2 separate regions of the Homo sapiens genome follow, and region 2 is linked to region 1. Evidence: fine-mapped expression QTL. A gene starts in region 1. The other region holds a variant in brackets. All regions are shown on one strand. Distances are between the middles of the regions.

Region 1 (4,471 bases):
CTACTAAAAATACAAACATTAGCCAGGTGCGGTGGCACGAGCCTGCGGCCCCAGCTACTCGAGAGGCTAAGGCAGGAGAATCGCTTGAACCCGGGAGGCGGAGGTTGCAGTGAGCCTAGACTGTGCCATTGCACTCCAGCCTGGGCGACAGAGCAAGACTCCGTCTCAAAACAAAAACAAAAACAAAACAACAACAACAAATAAATCTCTTCATTGTCCTTCATCTTTTGCAGGCTAAGTAACCCTACGTGGCCCAAATCTTTCGGTAGTATTTTATTTTGGTACTAATGCTCATTGGTAAAGACTGCTTTTTCAGTGCTGGAACAATTTTTGTACTGTATACAAAGGATGTAGAGATTTTGTTAAGATCTTCAGTCTCCAAATGCTGTTATTAAACTGTAGACATCTGGATTTTAGACACTTGTTTTGTCTGGGGAAAATTCGTTTTACGGCCGAGAGGTTTTTGAGTGTAATCTTTTTGGATTTCATGTAAGAAACACAGTACCAATGGTTGTCATTCTCTAGTATAACAATTTTTCACTAGCCTTTTCTGTGTTGTTTGTTCTAATAACATTTCCATATAAAGACGTAGAACCAAAAAATCAAAGTTCCTTTGTTTAGACAATGAGTCATTAAAAAATTCTCACTTTACCTTGGTTGATTAGTGCTGCCCAAAGCCTCAAACTCTTCTGTAATTACCGTACTTGTTTATTGAAGGCACTTAAGAGAAGGCGCTGGCAAATCATCTGCCCTGGTGCGGGCTATTTGAGTCTTAAAGTGGAAATGCAAAGTCTGAAATGCACTCGCTGCCAGGCACACTGAGTCTTAGATGCAGGTGGGGTTGACGGTACCAGGTGTGATTTGACAAGCCGTGGGCTGGCCCTGTAACAGTCCCCAGGCTAGTGTCAAGTTCCGTGTAACATCCTCTTTCCTTGAGGACTTCAAGAATCTACCAAAAGAAAAGCATCTCTTGAGGAGTAACTTAGGCCAGTTCCACGTTGAAGAGAAAAGTAAACGCCTATCACAGCAGCTCTACAGGATTAGGAACCGGGGCAATGGGGATGGTGGTGGTTCCGGTGAGGGAGCCTTCACTTGTCACTTTCTTCAATGCCTAAACCCTCCTTTTGTTAGCTGGCCCACACAGGCCAATGCCTACTCCCTAACGCATCCTCACCCTCCCCCAACCAGATGTGATGAGGGGAGCAAGCGTCCCCTGAGAAGCGTCTGGGCTCCCTCGGGGCAGCTGCGGTGGGGAGCTCCGGCTCTATCCGCAGGGCTTTCTTTAGTCCCTAGTCAGCGGGAATATTTTTACTGATTGGAAAAATAACCAGTCGTGCTCAGGTGCTCTCCCTCACTGAGATATACTGGCGAGGCTTCCCTGGCCGCAACGCCGCCGTAAGTGCTGCTCCCACGCGCGGTATCCCCGCGTACTGCTCAGTGCCCAACTCCGACGGGCTCTCAAGTGCCGCAACGCCCCGCCCCTTGCCACCTCCACACGTCTCATTGGCCAGAGCCTGCGTCCGCCTCGGCTCCTGACTGGCGGCTGCGCCTGTCGGTCCGTGCGGCAGGGACATTTCCGCATTGAAGGGGCTGCTCCGAATGGAGGGGGAGGGGAGGTGTTTAGGAGAAAGTAGGGGCTGTGGGTGTCGGGAGCCGGCTGACGGGTGGACAAGGGGGGGTTAGCAGCTGGGCTGCGACCGTTAGGGAGGGGCTCAAGGTGTGCATGTGTGAGGGAAGAGAGAGAGAGAGAAGGGCGCCTCAGAGGTGACTTTCAGCCTGCGAGCCTTCTTCCCGGGGCGCCATAAACGCCCCCAATTTCCCAGCTGCTAAAGGAAGAGGAAGGTGGGTCTCGCTGGCGGCTTGAGGAGGGGCGGGGTTGGGCTTCCGGCGACCCCCTGGATGAGTGTGTTTCCCGCTCTCGCTGGCCCGCTGTGTGGTCTCGGAGGCGGAATTTGGGCTTCTGAGGAGCGCAGGGCAGGCGGGGCGAGAATATGTACGGGAAGGGTCGGTGCCCTCCCTTGGGACTCCCGCGCCGGTGCACGGGTCTGCCTCTAGCCGGTGACCCCTTAGTGTCCGCTGCGGGGGAGGGGCAGCGTAGCCTTCGGCCCCTACCGAGAAAAAGCTGCGGCCGGGTTTCACTGCTCGAGGCGGGAAGGCGGGGAGCTGAGGCCCCGACCGGTCGGCCAGCCAGAGCGTGGAATTGGTAGCGCCTCCTAGTCCCAGGATGTTTATGGCTGGTGAAAATGGTTGCACTGCCCCCGCTGGCCGGCCTCGCCCGCCTCCCCGACCCCTGCTTGGGCGGGAGCCGCTGTTAACCGGGGTTTTCGGGGGAGGCGTTTGGGGCCTGGACGGCGGCGCGGGGAGGGGGCAGCTAGGGGCGCGGCCTGCCAGTGCCTCCTGCAGTACAGCCCTGGAGGGCGTGGGGACTTGGGGGCGGTGAAATAGCCGCTGTAGGTCCGCCTCTTTCATTGAAGAAATTTAAGTTCGTGTGGTTTTACCTTTTCCGGGAGTCTCCAGCTGGCCCTCATTTGTGTCCGGAGCTCAGGAGTTCCCAAACCGACTCAGTCGCACCAAGTTTCCGTCTTTTGGAATTGGGGAAGGAGTTTCTTTCTTTCTTTTCTTTTTTCTTGAGCCAGTTTTAATCGCTTTGAATAAATACTCCCTTAAGTAGTTAAATATAGGAGGAGAAAGAATACATCGGTTGTTAAAGCAGGAGAGGAAGAGAGACCTGCCCTGTAGCGTGACTCCTCTAGAAAAAAAAAAAAAAAGCCGGAGTATTTTACTAAGCCCCTAAAATGTCGAGATTTGTACAAGGTAAGAAATGCTGCTGCTTATATCCCGAGTTGCTTCAGGCAAATTTGGGTACTGACAGTGGAGAGGTTGGTGGGTGGTTTGGAAGTGGAAATGTTCATTTGAGATAACATTTGCGAAACCCTTTTCGTTGAATTGTCATCTGAGCTGCCTTGAGCTGCTGGGTTGACGTTCCAGACGCGTATAATTTATGCTCCTGTACCCTGCTGGGTTTAGTTTTGCCTCCCTGAAATCAGGTTAGTAGTACCGTCGCTTTCCTGGATAGTGGCTGTAAGTGATAAAACAGGATTTTTGGCTGCTAATTAATCCTTGTTCTCTTTTCCTGGTCTGTGTCAAGGTACCTGTGCGTGCACGCAGACGGGAAGGGCTGGGGAAGCGGGAGGACTGAGAAAAGCCGGGTGGGTTTTGCCGGGACTGTTGGGGAAGCTTTAGTGTTCTCCGCTTCTACTTCGTTTGTGTGTACGTGGTTTGCGTCTCAGATTCACTTATTGCGAAACTGGGAGTAGCCCGAAGAAGCTGGAGGTCATTTCAGCTGGAGAAATGACTTTGCTGCATTGCTGTGTTTATTTTTTCCTTTTTTGAACTATGAAAAGATGATTAAGGTTCCTTTGAAGTTTGAAAACTGCTCTCTAAATTCCACATGTGTATTTAAAAAGGGTTAGGGAATGCCTCAACTGAGATTATCAGTAACGTGTATATGAATGCATGTGTGTACGGTGTACTCACTGAAATTGGTGCTGGCATAAACCTTTGACACCAGTTTGTAGCATGAGATTTGCCTTCTGGTATGCAAGTAAACTCTTTCCTTGTAGACTCCAGTGTGTGAAAGCTTCAGCCATCTTGATGAACACACAGCTAGTAAAGTTCACAAACACTTATTATGCTTCCTGATAAATGTAGGTGTACTTTTGGAAAAAAAAAGTTGTGTCAGTAATGGCCATCATTTGACCCTGGGAATAAAAATGCCCTACTGAGTTCTACATCGCTTTATTAACTCTTCTTTAAATTTTGTGTAGTAGATTAAAGTAAGAGAATTCGACTGCCTGTGTTATTATCGAAACAGATCGAACGCTATGCTTGCCTTTAGCGCTAAGCTCAGAAATGTCACTTGTTATTAGACTTTCAAATTCATGTTATACCTTATATGTGGTAAGAGATGCTTATGTTCTGATTGAGTAAATGTCTTATTCAAGAATAGAAAGGCAGAACTGTTAGAAACGTACTGGTTTTGTAATAACAATATTCAGTTACCATAAAGGCGGTATTTTGCAAGAATATGCTAGGTAAAAGTGGACAAGTTACTTCTCTTTAAAAGTTAGAAATATTAATAAACCCAAGGTGTTCCATGTAGAGTTATGCTTTAGAATAGGTTGCAGAATTGGCAAGCATTGACTGATTTCACAGCCTTTGCTGTAATGCCAACTTGTCCTCAGAAGATTCAAAATCAAGTGGTAAGAGTTGCTGTGTATGTTTGTCATTACTTTGTCATCCACTTTTTTTAAAAAAACTTTTTATATTTTGGAATACTTCAGGATTTATAGAAAAGTTGCACATTTGTCAAAACTAAGAAATTAACATAGGTACATTACTGTTAACTAAAGGCTTTGTTCAGATTACAGTTCCCATGATTCACTCTAAGATACCAGATTGCACTTAGTTG
Region 2 (4,000 bases), 44 kb after region 1:
CTGTACACAAGCTCCAGACTCAAACTGCCTAGGGTGGGGAGGTGGGGGTCCTGCCTCTGCCATTGCCAGACCCACCACCTATCTGGGCCTTAGTTTAGACATCCGTAAAATGCAGACAGTAGTTTCTATCTCAGAGGGTAGTGATTTAATGAGCAAGTGCATGGTGAATTGCTTAGCAAAATGTCTGGCTCGTGCTGAGCAGTTTTTTGTCAAATCTGTATATTTGGCTACGTACAGATGATGTTTTAGATATTTTATGATTTAACCATTAAGAACTAATTTTGCATATTTGAGCAAAAGAAAAGTGAGTCTGGGTAATCTAATTGTCATTTTCCTCCCTAGCATTTGAATAAAACCTACAATACAGATGTTCCTCTTGTTTTAATGAACTCTTTTAACACGGATGAAGATACCAAAAAAATACTACAGAAGTACAATCATTGTCGTGTGAAAATCTACACTTTCAATCAAAGCAGGTACAATGAGTAAAAAATTAACTCTGGGTATGTTACTCCTGGGAAAGGACTTCTTTATCTTGTTTATAACAGAGCAGTTTCAAGATGTACAGGTACCAAATATTGATGTTCACAAGTGTTTGATGCCCATAAAAGCTGAGCATTTGTTGATATGTGATTGTTATAATCACTCTGGTTCTCTAATTTCCAGTTCTTAAAATTCAGTCTGCTTGAGACTCTGTTCCATGTCCAGAATATTTGGGGATAGTTTAAGCCTTTGCTTTCTGAGAGCATATTTGGTCTCCAGGTGGGTCTGTGAAAATCTTTTTATATTCCTACATTATTGATAACCTTTCCTATGGAAAGGAATTTCTTCAACACCTTTTATGGGCTTGGGGTAATTTAATAAATTCTGGAGGAAATCTTTGGGGAATAGTGAGTAAAAAGTAAATTCAGATGATGAATTCTGATTGAAGGCCAGGAAACTGGAGAAATAAGACTTCCATTTAAGGGATGGACATCAGTCCACATGAACTTGTACAGAAGGGATGTTTTGAGGCTGGGTGTGGTGGCTTATACCTGTAATTCCAACACTTTGGAAAGCCAAGGCAGGAGGATTGCTTGAGCCTAGGAGTTTGAGACCAGCCTGGGCAACATAATGAGACGTCGTCTCTACAAAAAAAATTTAAAAATTAGCATTGGTGGTGTGCCCTTGTAGCCCAGCTACTTGGGAGGCTGAGGTGGGAGTATCACTTGAGCCCAGGAGGTCGAGGCTGTTTGTGCTACTGTACTCCAGCCTAGGCAACAGAGCAAGACCCTATCTCAAAAATAAAATAAAAATAAAAATAAAAAAGAAGGACATTTCTAAAGTTGTGTCATTAGTTTGTTTGGTTGTTTTTAAGATCTATTTCCCATGGTTACTTTTTTTTTTTTTTTTTTTTTTTTTTTTTACTTTGCAGATGTTTTGCCTTTATTTTCTAGTCTTTAGTCTGTTGCGGTGCTAGCTCCCGTTTTCCTCTTGCCCCATCACCAGCTTTACCTTTCTTACTAGTGGTGGGAAGCAGACATCTTGGAATGCTAACCTGGTGCTTATTTTCTGGGAAAGAAAGAGATCCACCCCTGAATATATCCATTTGTAAGAATGGGCAGTATTTCCCAGATAGGTTTTCAGGGAAAAGAACAATCTCACAACTACATAAGTTTGAGAAAATTTACTTGATA[C/T]ATCCCTTCTTTTGGAGAGTCATAAAACATGAATATCTTAAAAATATGATGGGTCCTCCCATCTGTATGACCATAGAGACATGTTTTTGCAGCAGCTATCACCATCTGGAAAACAGATTTTGGACAACACAGATACTGAGAGATTTTCTTAAATGGATTCACCTATAATTAAATTACTTATTGATAGACTCTGAAAAGAAGTGAAATTTTATTTAACTTTAATGTATTATTTTATTTAAAGGCCTGAAATGCTCTACAGGGTCAATATTGAAAAAGAACTTTTTTTTTTTTAAAGGTACCCGAGGATTAATAAAGAATCTTTACTTCCTGTAGCAAAGGACGTGTCTTACTCAGGGGAAAATACAGAAGCTTGGTACCCTCCAGGTCATGGTGATATTTACGCCAGTTTCTACAACTCTGGATTGCTTGATACCTTTATAGGAGAAGGCAAAGAGTATATTTTTGTGTCTAACATAGATAATCTGGGTGCCACAGTGGATCTGTATATTCTTAATCATCTAATGAACCCACCCAATGGAAAACGCTGTGAATTTGTCATGGAAGTCACAAATAAAACACGTGCAGATGTAAAGGTAAATACCGAGAGGAAGCAGTTTAGGGCTTCATGTTTTCACATTTCGTAAGTTATGAAGTTAAAGACTTTTTTATTTGAAAGTTTCTATGTTAAACAACACATTTAATATGTTCTGTTTGACATAATAGTATGTATCATAAATCCATAATAAATAGTATCAAAATCATCTCTATTTTTTTGGATAAGCTACATCAGTAATTTTAACTAAAATAATTTCATACATATTTATGGCAAAAATCTGAAACATGTGAAATCTTTCAGTAAAGTTGTCCAAACCTTTAATACTCTTCTAGTTTGGCATTTAAATGTTATTTCATTGTCCCTTTTATGAAAATTTACTCTGTTTCTACATAATGTATTTATATATTTTTTGTATAATCACTATCTTTGTATTTACAAAAAAATGCACTTGAGACTGATGTGGAGGCACTCACTATTTTCTGCCTTTCTAGGGCGGGACACTCACTCAATATGAAGGCAAACTGAGACTGGTGGAAATTGCTCAAGTGCCAAAAGCACATGTAGACGAGTTCAAGTCTGTATCAAAGTTCAAAATATTTAATACAAACAACCTATGGATTTCTCTTGCAGCAGTTAAAAGACTGCAGGAGCAAAATGCCATTGACATGGAAATCATTGTGAATGCAAAGGTAAGCCAAGGTTGTGGCCCATTGAGCTTCCTGGTTCCTAAGGTCATAGTAGGCTACACACAGACCCCATCGCCCACTCCCTCTGTCCCATCTATTCCATTGGTCACTCCCTTTTGCCTTTTCAGACTCTAGTTCCTAGCCCTGTCTTCCAGAATCTGCTGTCACCCCTCTAGTGTGCCAAGTTATGGTGCCCTATATTTGACCCTGGGTTGTGGTAGTGGCAAAAACACTGGGCTTCAAAAGTAGAGAACCTACTTCAGTCTTAGTTGTTGCTCTGACACTCATAGGTCATTTGGCCATCGGTACTTTGCATGAGTTTTCTGAACCTATGGTTTATCATGAAATGATATTACTGAACAGAAGAGTTTTAAGACTGAAAAAAGATTACATGTTTAAGAGTTTGGCATATGATAGGTGCTTGATAAATGTCAGTTCTCAAAATTATTTTTCTGGCCAGGCTCAGTGGCTTATACCTGTAATCCCAGCATTTTGGGAGGCCGAGGCCGGCAGATCACTTGAGGCCAGGACCAACCTGGCCAACATAGTGAAACCCCATCTCTACTAAAAATACAAAAAACTAGCTGGGTAGGTGGCACATGCCTATAATTCCAGCTACTCGGGAAGCTGAGGCATAAGAATTGCTTGAACCCAGGAGGGCAGAGGCTACAGTGAGCCGAGATTGCGCCACTGCACTCCAGCCTGGGTGACAGATCAAGACTCCTTCTCAAAAAAAAAAAAAAATTTTTTTTTTTCCATCAATGGATCTCTGAAATCACTTCCCAAATATTAACTAACCTACATGGAACTAAGTTGTAGGTGCCTAAAACCTCTGTTTTCTATTCCCCACCCCTAATTTCTTACAGACTTTGGATGGAGGCCTGAATGTCATTCAATTAGAAACTGCAGTAGGGGCTGCCATCAAAAGTTTTGAGAATTCTCTAGGTATTAATGTGCCAAGGAGCCGTTTTCTGCCTGTCAAAACCACATCAGATCTCTTGCTGGTGATGTCAAACCTCTATAGTCTTAATGCAGGATCTCTGACAATGAGTGAAAAGCGGGAATTTCCTACAGTGCCCTTG

Direction of the effects. Positions count from the first base shown, and alleles are read on the strand shown. Sizes are in standard deviations (SD) of each study's normalised expression.
With allele T in place of C in region 2, the expression in aorta of the gene that starts at base 2,506 in region 1 is higher (small effect, 0.23 SD a copy in GTEx).

The links. PIP is the estimated chance that this variant, and not a neighbour inherited with it, causes the effect.
Region 2: its variant is the best candidate, but not a certain one, in a credible set for the expression of UGP2 in aorta (GTEx, PIP 0.60).

What each region holds. Positions count from the first base shown.
Region 1 is chr2:63,839,391-63,843,861 of GRCh38, forward strand. It overlaps UGP2 (UDP-glucose pyrophosphorylase 2), which reads left to right and starts at 2,506. Exons shown (of 10, transcript NM_006759.4): 1 at 2,506-2,814. The coding sequence starts at 2,796. It also overlaps a transcript of WDPCP not described here. RefSeq lists enhancers at 1,513-1,692, 2,563-2,612 and a silencer at 2,153-2,462.
Region 2 is chr2:63,883,618-63,887,617 of GRCh38, forward strand. It overlaps UGP2 (UDP-glucose pyrophosphorylase 2), which reads left to right. Exons shown (of 10, transcript NM_006759.4): 5 at 343-476; 6 at 1,972-2,269; 7 at 2,724-2,921; 8 at 3,785-4,000. Among named protein-coding and RNA genes, the nearest start is that of UGP2, 44 kb to the left of the region's middle. The variant C/T (reference allele first, on the strand shown) is at 1,677.